Linked DNA regions of Homo sapiens: region 2 is linked to region 1. The links come from fine-mapping of genetic effects on gene expression. A gene starts in region 1. The other region holds a variant in brackets. All regions are shown on one strand. Distances are from middle to middle.

Region 1 (8,322 bases):
AGTTGGAAGGCACCAATGTGGGGGCTTGAATCAAAACCAGAGGAAAGATATGCCCAACATTCCTGTCCCTTGGCTCTGGGAGCCCCCGTGGAGGCAGAGATGAGTGCAGGAGTGGGTGCAGAGGTTGGCTCCTCAAAAGAATGCCAGTCCAGGCTGGGTAAACGATGGGTGCTCTGAGCGGTGGGGGGTTTCCCTCCTGCTGTGGGGCTTCCTGAAGGAATCGTGGTGGGAAGCAGGGGTTCCCCTTCAAGGGGGCAGGGGAGACACTCTGGAGTGACATTTGCCACCCACCACTCTGTAATGATCAGAGTGGGAGTAAATGGAGCTGGGCCTCAGAGTAATTGGCCGGGGAACCCTGAGTCTCGGCTCGGCCCAGGGTCACAAAGGTCCCCGAGTTAATGAAGCAAACTCTCCCCAGTGTCAGAGGCCGCCTTCAGCACCCCTACAGAGGACGAAACTTTCAGCAGCAGCTTTTCAAGGTTCCAAAAAGAAAGTTGGTGGAGGGGGGCAGAAAGGGAAGGCGTTGTTTTCATGCCTCTTGCTTCATTTGCATAAGGTGAAAAAATGTTTCCATAGAAACAACTAGAGTCTGTAATTTTTGAATAACGATTTCTGCACACAGCACAACCTGTCTTTTCCAAAGGGGAATTAAGAAATTCTCAACAGCATTTCTTACCATAACAAAAGGCAAAGTTTCCCAATTCTAGGATTGCTGCTCCAGAAGGGAGGGCCTTGGCTCCAGCCCCTGCCCTCTCTCGGCCTCAGTTTACTCCTTCTGTGAAATGGGGCGAATGAGGGTGGAATTAGACTCAGCAGGGATGAAGCCGCCTGCACCGTGGAAGGGGAGGGCGGGCGCTGGAGTGAGATGGGATTCCTGTGTCGGGGCTGGGAGGCAGCAGGGCCGGGCAGCGTTGTGAGGAGCTTTCCAGAAGAGGCGGGGGCAGGGGCTGAGGACCCGAGGACCACCCAGGCCACACGGAGAGGCCCCCGCCCGACCCTGCCCCCCGGGGTCTCCTCTGCGGCGAAGAGCGTGGGTGCAGGACCCCGGCGCGCAGCGCAGCGCAGCGGACCCGGCTCACCTGAGCGAAGGTTGCGGCCTCGCTGGCCGCCTCTGCCCCCTTGTGGCCCGAGGCCACCGCAGCACCCACTTGCCCGGGGCACTGACCTGCGTGGCTGGCTCCGCCAGGGCCTGACCTCCCTCCTGGTGCCTTTGCAGAGGGGGAGCAGCCACAGGGCCTGGGGGTGGGGTTGGGCTGGGAGAGGGACCCCAGGATCCTCTGGCCACCTGCCCTCCTCCCAGGCGTTGGCACACGTGGTTCCACGGAGGGGCTCCCTGGGGCATCTCGGGAAGTGCAGATTCCCGGGCCTGCCTCTGCAGGTCTGACTCAGGAGGCCAAGAGGTGACGGCTAAAGTGGAGAGGACCACAGCGAGGCCTGCAGAGGGTAACGTGGGGGACTTGTCTGCTCCCCCATATTACAGATGAGAAAACTGAGGCCCTGCGTGGGGGGCCCCCCCTGTCCGTGGCTTCCCACCAAGGAGGCCCTGCATGTTCTGTCCATCCTCTGACTGCTCAGCGACCAAGGCAGCTGGGTGGTGGTCCGGGTCTGTGGAGGACGGTAACCGGGGGCTGTTGTCCTTGGAGTCCCGGTCTGCCTGTATTTATCCTCCTCATTTAACTGAGGGCTGATTATTGTGCTGGGACTGGAGCTGGGCAGGCAGCAGTGCCTGGTGTCTCTGGCTTAATTACAGCTGGAGGAGACGGGAGCAATGAGGCGTGAGCTGCTGGTGACTCCAACACAGGAAACGCTCCTGCAGACGTCCTTCCCTCCTCATTTTTAAGAAATACATGTACAAAGCCTCCCCGATTGAAAAATAATGACCCCACTGGATGGTGACTTTTTGGGGGGCAGCAGGGTCTGCCCTCAGCCTAGCTTCTGGAGCCCCTCCTCACTCTGGTGCTCTCCCCTTTAGCCTCCATCTCCTGACCTCCTCCCTCAGCAGGCTTCCGACTGTCCCCTGGGCTCCAGATGGCAGGGATGGGTTTGGAGAGGTGGCACTGTGAGGTGTGGGGAGGCCTGGCTCCTGCTGGTGGTCCTGAACAGAGGCTGCCATTAGGGTTACAGGTGAGACAGATGGGCACAGATGGGCAGAGCCGATGGCTCTGGAAGTTCAGGGGGTGGCCCAGGGTGGCCCATCTTGCTGGGGCTGCAGTTTCCCTGGGCAGCTGGATGTTGGCTGGCAGCACTGGGCAAAGAGGAGACAGAAGCACAGAAACGGAATCAGGCAGCCCAGCCCAGCCCTCTGTGTCCTGCTGCAGGATAGCCTCCAGTCAGGTAAAACAGGTGGTGGCTTCAGGACTTGCACAGACAGAGCATGTGCTATGTCACTGGGAAGGAGCTCACCGGGAGACAGATGGGGCCTTGGGAAAGCGGGTTCCTGCTGTGGAGCCTCAGTTTCCTCATCTGTGACACGGGGCTTTGGTGAGGGTTGCTGTGAGAATGAAGAGTGAGTGATTTGTGAACAGCCAGCTCACGGCTGAGAGGTGGAGAAAGAAGATGGGGCTGTTCTCTTCCCCAGCTGGAGTCTTGGAGGACAGCAGCTGCCCAGAGGAAATGGAAAGTTAGGTCCGAAGGCTGCTTTGAAATGGTTGGAGGCTGGTTACCCTGAACCCAGCTCTGGTTTGGCTGCTATCAGCTGGCTCACTGGTGAAAACCTCAGAGCTTTTTTTTTTTTTTTTGGTGGGAATTAGAGCCCATGATGGGTGCATGTATTTGGAAACCATAACACTCCATTGGCACATGCGAGAGTGGTTTGCGATGGAACTCAGTCCTCACAACACTGAGGAAACACAGTTGGGAGACTGAGGCACACAGAGAAGGTGGCTCACCCAGGGCCACACGGCAGGGAGATGTGGCAGCTCTGATGGGGACGTCCAGCCTGGTGGCATCTCAGCATACACAGTTAGGGGGTTCCTCTTAGAGAGAAGGAATACAAAATCCTGCGGCGGTGGATATTCAGACATGTGTGGAGTCCCAGCAAGTGGTCCATTCTATATTAGGCAAATATTAGAGACGGCAACGCAGCCAGGCCCTCCCTGCCAGGAAGTGTGGAAACCCTGAGGAATCAGCACCCGCTGTCACTCGAACCCAGGCCTGGACTCCTGCCCCAGTGCTCTTTCCACCAAAGCACCTTCCTCGAATGCACCCGGTTTCCTGGGAGTGAGCTTCTTTGCCACTGGAATGAACAAAAAATCCAGATGAGGATTTCAGGGTGGCTCTGCCCTGCCTGCCTCACACCGCCCTTTCCAGAACAGGCGGGGGAGCGCGAGGCAGGGCGGTTCTCGCTTGGAGACGGGTGGGTGGACTGGAGGGCAGAGGCAGGCTCTGGGTTCTGCACCCATTTACATATCCCCTGCGCACTGTCCGGAGCACTCCTTCCCTTCCCTGGTTCCTCAAGGCACGGCTCCCCCAGGCAGATGAAAGCTTAATAGAGTTTTGCGACATGAAAGTCAGTCGGAGGAAAGAGCCTTGAACAGTTGTGCGTGAGAGAGAGGCAAGCGCCCGAAATTATTTTACGACAAAGGCAGCTCTCTCTGCCACAGAGGCACAGAGGAGAAAGGAGCCCAGGAAACGGGTCATTTCTTTCGTGGAAAAATGGAAATGCTCTGAAGCATTTTGGGAGACGTGCTGTGAAGCAGGTGACACCAGAAGACAAGGACACTGGGGGCTCCCTGCCGGGAGGCGCAAAAAGCAACTCCCGTTCGAGGGTCAGAGGAGCCTGGATGCTAATGTCTCTCCAAAGTGACTTGGAGCCAACTGCCGGAAAGGCCATGCCCTTAGGAGCACAGGCAGGTCCCAGCTCAGGTGAGCCTGAACCTTCTGCCCCATCAGGAGGTTCCAGTGGGAGGAGCTCAGGTGGGGAGGAGTCGGAAGTCAGGATTTCATGCCTCCCTCATTGGCTCTGGGGTTCCCTTTAAGGTGGACACTCGGTGTGGGCAGTGGGAGGCAAGAGTGAAGCAGAGGAGAGCAAGCGTGGTGGTTTAGCAAAGTAAAGCAAAGTAAACCTGGAGGGAGCAAATGACTTTGTCCTGGGTGTGAAAGGGTAAGGCCCCATTGTAGGTCATTTATTCATTCAACAAACACGGGTTGAACTGTGTCTTGGGCTGGCCTCAGAGAAGCTCAAGAAAAGAAAGATGCTGTCATTGCCCCGAGGAGCCACTGTCTGGCATGCAGGCCAACTGTGACAAGCTGTGGTCCAGGTGAGGTGGGGTCTGGACAAGCCAGGAGGGGTTCACTGTGGATGAGCCAGGGAATGGGGAGAGGCCCCAGAGACGGGCTATGAAGACCAGTCTTGGGGCAAGAACAGTAGGTGGGGAGGGGAGGGAGAACCTTCCAGCAGGAGGATGCACCTGTGGCTAAAGCTTGGAGGTGCAGGGAACGCCCCCAAGCACCTGGGGCCACAGTGCAGGGTGTGGCCAGGACAGGAGTCCTGGAGCTGGACAGCCTGAGGGGCCACATGGTGCTGGGCTCTGTTCCCGGTGGGGAGGGGTGGGACTGTCCCTGTGGACAGCAGGGGGCTACTAGGGGCCCTGGGGAGTGGCAGTGAGGGCAGATACAGGATGTGGCCAGGTGGCGCTGGCTCAGGCAAGTGGGATGGGGAGGGGAGCAGAGGCTGCAGCCAGGAGGGCAAAGGGGAGGTGGCTAGGCCATGGAGGGGAGGAGGAGCATGGGGAGAGCAGCATTGGGGGAGCTCCAGAAGGCCCCTGGTGTCAGAACAGAGGGCAGACCTGCTCCTCCTCCTCCCTCCCTCTCTGCAGCTGCAGCCGGAAGGGCCTTGTCCCTGGGAGGGCTGCCTTGACTCCTCCCCTCCAGCCCAGGTGACTTCCGTGCCTCTCTGTGTCCTCCAGGGTGCTGGGCCCCTGGCCAGCCTGTGGCTCCTCCATGCCCCTGAGTGTGTGGGCAGCTCTGCGGGATGAGAGGATGTCAGGGCAGGGCCCACCCTGAGCTAAGTCCAGTTGTCATGGATTTTCCTTTGTTTATTCCATCTTGGGGTCAGACCTAGCCCAGTGCTGGCCAACCCAGCAGTTGTGCTAGCCCAGGACATATACGGGAGGTCTCATGTGTGGCCCGAGCCCACCCTGTCTCGGTCCAGGACTAGGAGGCTGAGGGTCTGGCTGGGGGCAGCATCCCTGGACAGTGGGTGTGGCCAGGGGGGCTCCTTGCCGGGGGATATGCCACAGAGCCCCGCTTCACCACTCAGGGCTGTCCCCGTCCAGTTGCAGGGGACCTGCAAAGTTTGCTCCCCCATGGGGACCTGCAAAGTTTGATGGGTCTGTGTGGGAGTCACTTGGCAAAAAGGGGACTGGCTCCTGCGAGAATTCCCAAGAGGATTCGAAATCCCTGGAGCTTGCCAGACTTCTGCTAGCTGGGGCCAGGGCACTGCCGTGACTCCTCAGTTCTCCCGCTAGGGAGATGGGGCTAAAAGTCTTGCTCTGCCCACCGCAGGGTCTTCTTGGGAGAATAAAACGAGGCCAAGCGTCTCCAGAAAGCTTGGGGCTTCTGCGATCAGGGGGTTGGGATGGAGGCCCCACAGAGCCAGTATCAGCAGAGCAGGGCAATAACCCACATTTCATAATCCTTGAACTTGGACAAACAGACACTGGGTCCCATGTCAGCAGGCCTAAGGCCGGAAGGGTGGCTCGCCACCTTCTGAAGACAGGGATCAGAGGCCCAGACAGGGATTCCGGGGCCTTGGGGCCCCAGCACCATGCCCGAGCTCCACGTGAGAAGATGAGCTCAGGCCTCCGCTCCCTCTAAGCTGGTGGGTGGGAATTTGGGATGGGATTTGTGCGAGGTGAGGAAAATTGTTTCTAGTTTCCTCCTTATGGGGCCTGAGCTGGGCCCCTGTGTCTACCACTGGGGCAGGCCTGGGCCCAGCTGTGGATAGCTGCCATGCCGGCCACTTCACCTCTGGCTCTGCCAAGCCTTGTCCCCGTGGGGCCGCCCTCCACCCCGGCTCTACTGTGCCAGAAAGGAGGCCCCAGAGGCCAGGAGGCACCTGGTCAGCCCACACCTACACCGGCCAAGTAGCAGGTGGACTTTTCACGTGGGAAGCCAGACCAAATCTCTGGGCTCCATTTTCCTGCTAAAGGGAAACAGAAAACCTGGAACCCATCAGTTGTCATTGGGGATGGAGGGGACAGAAGGGACAGGGCCACCTCAATCCTGTCCCTCGAGACCTGAGACAAAGATGTACAAGGTGTGGAGCAGGCAGCGGGACCAGGTTCACTCCCAGAAACCTGGGCTTGGTGAACTAGGGGAGCCTGAGGCTTCGGGGTAACCGGAGAGAACGAGAGAGCTTCCGCACAGTGAGGCTCGCGGCAAGTGCGCAGTAAATGTTAGCCCTGTGGCTGCCCTCCCCGGGACTCAGTTGACCCGTCTCGTCAAACAAAGAAGTCACTCAGAGCATTGGTTCACCCAGGTCCAGGGTGCTGAGAGGGCTGTTCTAGGGGTCTCTGGGTCCCCCATGCCTCCCTTCAACCAGGGAAACTCCCTGAAAATCTATTCTACATTTTGGGCTTCTGGATAAGAATTCACGGGAATAAAGGATCCCACAACTAAAATACATTTTGTAAAAAGGCTGGTTTGGAGACGCATGTGCATACAAAGGGCAGCCCGCAGCCCTCCTGCTCCAAGTCTGTTGGCGGAACTTAAGCCCAGGCAGCCTGTGTGCAAGGGGAGGGCAGCCTGGCTCTGTAGGAGATGGCTGGTTTCAGGGTGGCCTTGACCTTACTATCACGGAGTTCAGTGACCTCTTTGCAGACCTGCTCTGGGCTCAGCTGGGATTCCAGGGACTATCAGCAATTGGAGGGGAGTGTCCCTCCCCACTGAGAGAGGTGGAGAAGGACAGGAGCAGACAGCCCTGCAAATGACTCATCCCTGCCCTCCGTGCCTCAGTGCCCTCATCTGTGAAATGGGTATAATAGGAGTGTCCCTCTTCATAGCGTTGCATGGATGAAATGAGATAATGCATCTAGAGCTCTTAGTGTGGGCGGCCTGGCATGTAGTAAGTGATCAATTAATGGTGGCATGAGTCACTGTTACTCATATTATTATTCATATCGCAGTGCCCTTCGGCTTCTTCAAGAATGTATACTGAGCTGGCCTCACTCCAGAGTTGTTTACTTGTGCTTGTCTTCACAAGGTAATTGAGAAGAGGCCAAAGAGAGCAAGGGCCAGCCCTCCGGCCGCCTGCTTCCCAGGCCGGACTGTTTCCTTCTCCAGGGCCACCTCTGCAAACTCTTCAAAAGAAGCAAGGTCATACTCCCTAGTCTAAGCAAAGGAGGAAACCAAAGGCAGCTTTGATATGTCAGCTTAGGGAACAAGCTGACGGCACGGATCACAAGCGCTGGGTTCTGCCTGAGCAAATGGCTCTAAATGACGTACTTCAGGCTCTCCTCTTAATGTGCTGGGTGTTTATGATTTTTTAAGAAGTGCCTCATCAAAAAAAATGCAATAATGATGCTCCTAACTTAACAGCAGCACTTTAGAAGAGATGAATTATTCACATCAGAGATGAAACAGGGACTCTACAAACTGGGCCAGCTGAAGCAGTCCCTTTCCCGGGAACTATTTTTATCTTTTTTTTACAGTCTTTCATCTTGGGAGACACGCGGTTCGCAATGTACGGGGAGCCCATTGCTTGGAGCCCAAGCTGGCAGGATGTCAAACCTGAAGTACTAGGCGTCTTGGAGCTTCTGCCTGGAGTACGAAATCCGAGGAAACTGAAGTGTGGAAAACGGGGCAGTAGCAATGTGAATGAGGATGATTGAGGGGTGCTGGGGACTCCCTGTTTCTTAACCTTGGAGGGCTCTCAGAGGCATGCTTCTCCATCGTCGACCCAGGGCACCATGGAGCTATCTTGCCCTTTCTTTTCCTGACATCCAATGATTCCCCACCTAATAGTGCATGGAGCTCTTGGGAAAGAGTGTATAGATTCTATATGGTGTGCATGGAGCAGCTGGCCCTGAGGAAGGAAGGGATTTCATTATTGCAAGGCTCAGGGGCAAGTGTGGACTAGCAGGGTCCCAAACTCTACAGGCCTTGACAGTCCAACATTGTCACACTCAACACTCGCCCATTTGCTTTAAAAAGCACCCTAGACCTGCACTCTCTGATATAGCAGCCATGAGCCACATGGGTACTGAACACTTGAAATGCAGTTTGACCAAATCGAAAGGTGCTGTGAGTGCAAGCAGCATACGGGACTTCAGAGACTTAGTACAAAAGGAGAATGTAAACGATCTCGTGAAGATTTCTACA
Region 2 (8,322 bases), 530 kb after region 1:
GATGGCAAGGGGTGCTGGTGTTTAGTTATCACAAGGGGTGCTGGTGTTTAGTTATCAGCAAGGGGTGCTGGTGTTTAGTTATCAGCAAGGGGTGCTGGTGTTTAGTTATCAACAAGAGGTGCTGGTGTTTAGTTATCAGACTCCAGCTCTTCCCTGCTAAGTCCCTAACTCCCATACCCAATTAAGGAATAGTGTGACATGGCCCAAAGCCAGAGGCTCACAGCCACCTGTATGGAGCCTGCCTGCCCTTGTCATAGGATTGCCTGATTTTGCAAATGAGAAAAAGGATGCCTTGTGAAGTCGGAATTTCGGATAAACAATAGATACTTTTTTAGTATAAGTATATCCCACATATTGCATGAATATCCTTATATCTAAAAATTATTCATTGGTTGTCTGGGATTCCCACTTAATCAGGCACCCTGTGTCTTATCTGGTGTGCCTAAATCATCATTTCTGTCGAGTGTGATGCCCAGAGTGCTCACCATGGCTCAGAACTGGGGCCCAAAGAGGATGTGTGGGGAAGTGGGGAGACCCATCAGCCTCAGACCTGAGGTGCAGATGTGGGCATGTCTGGCTCCCCACTTCCTTCTCCTTCTTGGCCAGCTCTGGTCTCCAGATGTAGTGAGGGTTTGTGGGGTAAGTGGGGAGCTGTTTCCAGGGCCCATGGATTTGGAGGCTTCAGTGGCCCTGCTCACCACTCTGCAGAGCTTCTGCTGTGAGCTTGAGCCACTTCCTTCCTTCCCGGGCCCCAGCTCCTCACTTATAGTGGGAGGTGTGGGTGGGGAATTAAGCCTTCTAAGCCACCTGCAGGACCACCATTTAGCCAAATCACAGAGACCAGTGCATACCCTTGCCCTGACCCCAGCCCCACTCCCTCCAACCCTACCTTCCCCAAATCACTTCCATTATGAGGAACGGAGAGTGAGGGGCCAGGGGAGGTCGAAGGATGCTGTCCTCCTGGTCAGCACCTGCCCTGTGCCTGCCCTTGCCAGGGTCCAAGGACCTTCTCTTGTGACTGCACCAACAGCCTGCAGCATATCTCCCCCAGCAGAGCCCTTGAGGACCTAGTGTCTCTAAGTCCCAAAGTCAGGCCCGCCAAGGAAGGCACTCCAGCCCCTGACCAAAGCAGGGGAGACCTCAGGCAAATGCCACCCTGTTCCAGGCCTGTTTCCCCATCTGGAACCCCAAGGCTGGAACCAAGAGAGCTCCCAAGGCCAGAGAGTGTCCAGAGAGTGACCGGCCAGTGCCCACACTCCCTCAGAGGCAGACCCCTTTGTTCTCCCTGGGGGGCTCCTGTATTAGCTGTCTGTGGCTGTGTAACAAATAACCCCAAAATTTAGCAGCTGGGGACCAAAAACATTCATCATCTCACAGGTTCTGAGCATCAGGAATACCTGGATGGCTCAGCTGGGTGCCTTTGTCCCAGGGTCTGTCACAGGCTGTGATGAGCCTGTTGACTGGGGCTATGGTCTCATCAGAGACTCGACTGGTGTGGGGATGCTCTACTCCCAAGTCCATACATGTGCTATGGGCAGGCCCTGGTCCCTGGCCACATGGGCTTCCCCACAGGGCAGCCTCAGAGCATGGCAGCTTCCTTCCCCCAGAGTGAGAGATCTAATGGAGGGGGGACCCAAAGGCGAAAGCCATGGTGTTTAAAACCTGATCTTAGAAGTGATGTCCCATCATGTCTGCTTATCGTACTCATGAGAGGCCATCACTAAGACCAGCTCCCACTGAAGGGGAGGGGATTACTCTGGGTGTGAACACCAGGAGGCCAGAGTCTCCAGAGACCATCGCAGAGGCTGCGACTATGTCTCCTGACAAGTTTAAGGGATTTGCAAGATGCACTGGGGCAGGGAGGGGTCAGGTGTTCAAACCCACTCATAGACAAGAAAACCATTTCCCTGAGAGAGTGAGGCAGATGTGTGTCCAAATCACTTTCAGGATGAATGGAAGAGTCAGGGGTGGGGAACACCCTTGGCATCTTCTCCAGCTCCGTCTCTCCCTGCCCTGGTTCAGGGCTTTCCTTGCCCCCCTTCCCCTCTTTCCCTCCCTCCCCTTCCCCTCTTTCCCTCCCTGCCTACCCCTGCTCCTTCTTCCCTTCCCCTCTTCCACTATCCTCCCCCTTCTCAGTCTCTGAGTCTCTGTCCCTTTCCTTCCCCACTCCCTTTCTTCCTTTTCCTTCCCCCTGGCCCCTCTCCCTCCCTCCTCTGCATCTCTGGTCCCGGGGTCCTCCTCACTTTCTCATTTCCTTTCATTTCTAGGGGCATCTCCCTGTGCAACAGGCCCCAGGCCCAGGCTGCAGGGACAGCAGAGCCAGGCTGCTCCCACCCACCCCAAAGCCCTGCTCATGCAGCTGCCGCCAGCCCGGATCCCGCTAGGGGGCACCATGAGCTGCGGCTGCGGACGAGGGGCTGCTTTTCCCCAGGCGCTGTGGGCTTGGAGAGAAACCCTGGGCAGGAAGGGTCCTCTCTTTCCAGTCCTGGAGCCAGGCCACCTGGTGGGCAGTGCAGCCTTCACACTAGGACCGCGGGGCAGGGATGCCCGGGACCTCCGGCCCAGCCCGCCCAGGCCACACATGTGAGCGTCTAGCACAGCGGCCACCTGCAGGGAAGGCATAGGTCTCTCCCAGGAGGCTGTCAGCAGCTGGGAGGCCGGCAGCAACCCCACTCCAGGCCTGAAGTATCTGCCACCTTTGGCAGGCTCTGGGCCCCATGGAAAGGCTGAGGGGCGCTCATCCCGGGTTGCCATCCCCAGAACCGGTGTGACAGGCCCCACAAGCACGCATGTGAGTCAGCTCATGCACAGGAGAGCCTCATGGAGCCTGCCCGGCCAAGGTCCCCAACCCCAGACCCAGCAGCTGCCACTGCGACCACCCTGAGAGCTGTGACTGCACCCAGGCCTGAACACACATGCATGGCCTGAGATCTGGGGGTGTCCTCCAGAATGAGGTGGACCCAGCAGGGGAAAAGGCTTTGCAGGGAGCGGTCACAGCAGGAGTGCCCCACGTGCACTGAACCTGCCCTGGGCCCCACCTCTCTTCACATGGGTGATGGGGGGGGTGCCCCAGTTTTATGGGATCTAAGGTGAGAGCATTAAAGACGAACAGGCATGCGTGGACAAGATGTGTCCTGCTGAGACCCAGAGAAAGACATTGCAGCAGGTCCTGCCGGATCCCTACAACCCACGGCTGCGTCCGGGGGTTGCTGCATTTTTCATCGTGGAAGATTCTTCCTAAGCACCCTCCCTAGACAGGCACGCACGCGGCGTGGATGCACAGGCTTGCACCTGCTGCTCACACCCTTGTCAGCCCTGGCTACTGTCA[A/G]ACAGGAACTCTTGGGCCGATGTCAGCAGCAAAAGGAACCCCACATCTCATTGTTTCATTTTGTAATGTAAAATTCTCTGGTCAAGAAACTCTTCAGATGTTTCTGGCTATTTTTACTGCTCTCCTGTGAATTGCCTCCTTGGAGCCTTTGTCCATTTTCCTATTGAGAGTTGTTTCAATTAATTTATAACTTTTTTGTTTATTAAGGGTATTGCTCTTTTGTCTATCAGAAACATTCAACTATATTCCTCCAGTTTGTTATTTATCTTTTAATTTTAGTCTGTGTGTGTGTGTGTGCGAGTGTTTGTGTGTGTGGCGTGTGTGTGTGCATGTGCATCTGTGTGTGTGCGTGTGTGTGTGCATCTGTGTGTGTGCCTGTGTGTGTGTGTGTGCGCATCTGTGTGTGTGCCTGTGTGTATGTGTGTGTACATGTGTATGTGTGTGTGTCTTTCAGCACTCAGTGGTCTCATGATCTTACATTGGTTATTATTTTCCTTCACGGCATCTGGATTTTGCATCTTGCTTGGAAAGCCTTCCCCATCTGAGGGTCCGGTATTTTTCTTCCCTTTTCTAATGCTCTAGCTATTTGTCATTTATTAAATCTTCAGTCCCTTTAGGGTATTTGTTGGGTATGAAATAGGAACTAACTTTCACAGATTTTTGCCAGATGGAAGATAGAACTCTGGGGTCTCAGTCACCGACAATGAAGGTGTGGCGGAAAGACGTTTCCTTAGAAACTACACCCGAGGCCCCACCGATCCCGGCTTTCACCTCAGCAGAGCAGCAACCGGACCTCTGTGTCTTGTGCCAAGCAGAGATCTAAACCTCTTGCCAGCTCCCAGGCAGTTCCAGTGTGTCCCTTCCTCTTGGAGATATGCAGACCTCAGGGAAGGGGTGCCGGGGGTGCCCAGAGCCACCATGGCCCAGTCCTCCCCCCTGGGCTGGACCCTCACCTTGGACAAGATTGGAAGAAATGGAATGGCCCCTGCTTAGCTGCGGGGGCTTCCAGAGATATTCAACTGGGTCACACCCAGCAGAGTCTGCAAGAGGAGGAAGGAGGTGCTGAGATTTGCCCAGCTTCCTCCCGGGGTGGGAAGAGCTTCTCTGGCTTTCCTCCTTCCTCCAAGGTGAGATGCAAAGACAGGACATCGAGGTTGTGATCACAGCTGTGACTTGGCGGCCTCCCGTGCCCCCAGCCCCGGGCCAGCTCTTGGCCTCACTATCACCTGTCCACACAGCAGCCTGCAAGGTGGGTTCCATGATCCCCACTTTACAGAGGAGAAAACAGAGGCTCAGAGATGTCAAGCAACCTGTGCAGGGCCACACAGCTTGTAGGGAAATTGAACTCACCTCAGGAGGTGGTTGAGACGATGGAACCAGGCAATAGCAGCATAGTGACCACAAGGGTTTGCACATAGTAGGCCTTCAAACATTTAGCCACCCTCTTCTTTCCCTCCCTCTCTTCCTGGCTTCTTTCTTGGTTCCTCCCTCTCTTTCCCAGGAGACTATACCACCATCTGAAATCCATGATGACAATGACAAGCAAACTCATGCCTTGAGACAGGATACACTACAATAGAGGAAGAAACGGGAACTCATAATGGACTGGCAAGCACTATTGTTTATGGACAAACTTCCCCTTGGGAGGCAAGTCCTTAGACAGGTACCCCCAGGAGTCCCCATCCCTGAGCAGCTCCCGGTCTAACCAGAGATTCACACGGGGGAAGTTTCTACCCGTAGGAAGCAGCTCTCAGCATGCAGGGGAATCCAGAGGGGCTTCCTGGAAAAGGGGGCTCCTGATCAGATAGTCAAGGATTTGAGGCATGATAGATGCCCAGAGGAGCAGGGTCGCATGGTGGGGTCTGTCTGGGAGGTGCCTACTATTTCCTGGCTGTGTGGGGTATGCAGAGCTGGAAGGAGAGGCCACCTTTTTAAAGCATATTGAACACAAAAGCATACACAACGTACTGTATAATTTCATGTATAAAAATGTAAAAACCACTTAAAAATAGTGTGGAAAGCAGAGTAATTGTCACCCCTGGGACAGAAGGCTGCCAACCGGAAGGGAGGTGTGGTGGGAGGTTTTCTGGGGCGTTGGCATGGTTCTGTTTCTTGTTCTGGGGGATGGCTAGAGGCCTGCACCGCTACTCTGTGAAAATTCAATATGTACACCTCCAATCCATGTACTATTCCACCTGTGTATTATACTCCAATAAAAAGTTGAAGTTTGTTGAAACAGGAGCTCAGGGGATGGGAGAATTTGAAGATTATTCTGGAGGCGGTGGGCAGACCCAGGCTTCTGAGCAGTTCGTGACCAGAGCTATGTTTTCCGAGGATGAATCTGGCAGTGTGTCTTGGATGGATTAGCGGAGGAGGGGGGTGGGCTGGTGAGTGCTCAGAGACTGTCGCCAGTGCAGGTGAGAGGTAATTCACAGCCGCCCTGGGGAGGAGATGCCGTGCCACGGCTGTCTGGGGCTTCATTAAATACCAGAAAGAGAAATGAACCAATTTCACAGCCCTGGTCTGTGACTTCTCTGAGGATGTGAAGTCAAAGGCTATGCGACTCAAGGCCAGTAGCAATCCGATTAATTCCCCAGGATAAAGCCTTTAATCTAACACATAACAGCAAATTCTTGTTATTCCATTAAAAACAATACCTCAGCCCCCACGTTGGCTCCCAGGGCCTTAATGAGACCCCTTCCCTGCCCAGGAGGCTGAATTGGTCCTTTGTTCTTCACAGCATGGGGTTCAGAAGATTGCTAGTTTGGTGGTAGGGCTGGTTGGGGACATTGGCACTGATGGGAGTGTAAGGCTGGATGTGACAAAAGCCACCGGGAGTTCTGGGTGACCTCAGCTGAACTGAAAGTTGGCCTCGCTTCTTGGGAGGAGAATGTGGGGGGTCTGCTGGGGCCAGGTCGTGGCAAGGTGCATGGTAGAAAAAGCCTTGTGCTGGGAGGTCAGTGCCCTGGGGTCTGTCCAGATCCCCACAGTGTCACCAACTCACTGAGTGACAGTGGGCCAGTCTTGTCCCCTCTGGCCTCGGTCTCTTCCCAAGTGTGTTGAGAGAACTGGCCTCTTGGGAAGGCCAGTTACTCATGGAATCAAGCTCCCTGGGTGCCAGTCCCCTGGTGCTGAGGACTGAGAATGACCCCAGACAGTAATGTGCTGGTTTGCCTAAACTTCTTGGATGAAGAAGAAGTGGAGAGAACATCCCTTGGCACTTGGAAGCAGCCGGGGAACACTTACAGTGTTACGCAGGGTGTGCCCTGGCGTCCATGCTCCTGCAGTATGGTGGAGGAGAGATACGTTCCACTTGGCCCCCCTACAGAAAATGACTTTTCACCAAAGGCGGCGGCATAAACGCTGCTTATCTGCCTCCCTGGTGTGCCCGGAACTCTCTTGATTTTAACTCCGAAAGTCTTGCATCCCAGAAAACTCAGTCCCAGGCAAGCCAGGATGGTTGGTGACCCTACTTCCAGTCCTCGATAAAAAACTGGGCACCCAAAGTGCACTGAGAGCAATTGCACCTGTGATGCCTGCAAGTCAGGTGCAAAGCAGGAGATACAAACCCATCCTGGGACCAGCAGCACCTGGAGGCTGAAATCACAGCAGAGAGGGGTGCCCCTGGCCACAGATTGCCTCCCAATTCGATCGTCAGAGAGGAGGAACTGGAGGTGCTCTCAGAATCCAGCCAAAGCCCAGTTGCTGAAGAGAACCGGACTGGCCTACAGACTCTGACTAGTGTTAGGATGTTGGCTTTGGGGGATCCGAAGGACAGATGCCCTTTCTATGCTGTGGGCTCCACTGTACTCATCAAACCCTCTTCTGCTCTCCAGAGATCAGAGTTAACAAGACGCCCTCCAGGAGGAGCCAGGGAGGAACTACCTGGCCCCGTGACCCCACCTGACTTCTGTAGCCAAACTCCAGAAGCCAGAGGGGCCAAACCAGGTTAGCACTCCCACCCCCGCCACGCCCCACTACCTTGGCTCTCAGGCGTAATTCTGACTGGCTGTGTGCCAGTCATGACCTTGGCCAGCCATGGCCACAGGGCCTGGCCCACTTCACAGGGCAGCTCGGGCTCCAGCCACCTCTGCTTCCAACATGGAGACAGGCCATCAGACGGCCACCAAGACAGGTCGCAGGCCTTGGACCTGAGAAATCACTTTCGAGGTAGTTTTATGGCAAACACAATTTCTGGGGCTGGAAGTCTCACCTCTGTTAATGAGGTGTCACTGGAGGGGTGTCCAGGACAGGCTTGGATGTCTGACAGGCACACACAACACCGAAACAGATGACACCCTGTATGGTGTAAAGCCAGCTCGGACGCCTCCTGCCTAATTCCCGGTGGCTGAGGGGACGACCTGTGGGAAATAGCACAAAGCAGTGACCTGTAAAATCAGGAGCCACAGGATGAAAACATTTTGTCACTGAGAAAATATGTTTATGCTCATTAGAACAACGTTTTTTGGGCTCATGTAGAATAAACATATTGGGTCGAATGTTGCTACAAGGTCTACATTTACAAAGAGGCAAGGAAGGTATGAAATTGCGGTCAGGAGCTGGCAAGCGTGAGAAATTACAGTGGGATGAGCTTCTCGCACTGCAAATTGGAAAATTCAGAGATGTGTGGCACGGCTGCGGAGGCCCAAACTTCTAAATGAAATTTATTATTTCTGTAAAATCTGGGAACAACATCTTCAGGGATAACAAATATAGAGAAAACATGATTTCAGCCTCGATATTTGGTCTCCTTGCAGACGGTTTTCATTAAAAAGGGCTTTATAAAAATGATAAAAATGTTACAGTTTGCTAAATTAAGTCTGAAGCAGCTCTATTTAATAATCTGGTGCATTTTAATCATTTTTTGAAAAGCCTGACATATTGAAAAGAACTTCAGACTTGAGCACCAAAAAAAGAAAAGGAAAAGAAAAAAAGGAAAATACTCTCAACTCATCTTGGGTTGTTTGTGCATTTCTAAACCTAAACTTGTCCCT

The links. PIP is the estimated chance that this variant, and not a neighbour inherited with it, causes the effect.
Region 2: its variant is fine-mapped to the expression of LINC00523 in adrenal gland (GTEx, PIP above 0.99).

Annotation. Positions count from the first base shown.
Region 1 is chr14:100,653,847-100,662,168 of GRCh38, forward strand. LINC00523 (long intergenic non-protein coding RNA 523) reads left to right here and starts at 3,422. Exons shown (of 2, transcript NR_024096.1): 1 at 3,422-3,864. RefSeq lists an enhancer at 6,676-7,875.
Region 2 is chr14:101,181,065-101,189,386 of GRCh38, forward strand. No RefSeq gene overlaps it. Among named protein-coding and RNA genes, the nearest start is that of LINC02285, 64 kb to the left of the region's middle. RefSeq lists enhancers at 2,051-2,684, 2,685-3,317. The variant A/G (reference allele first, on the strand shown) is at 3,329.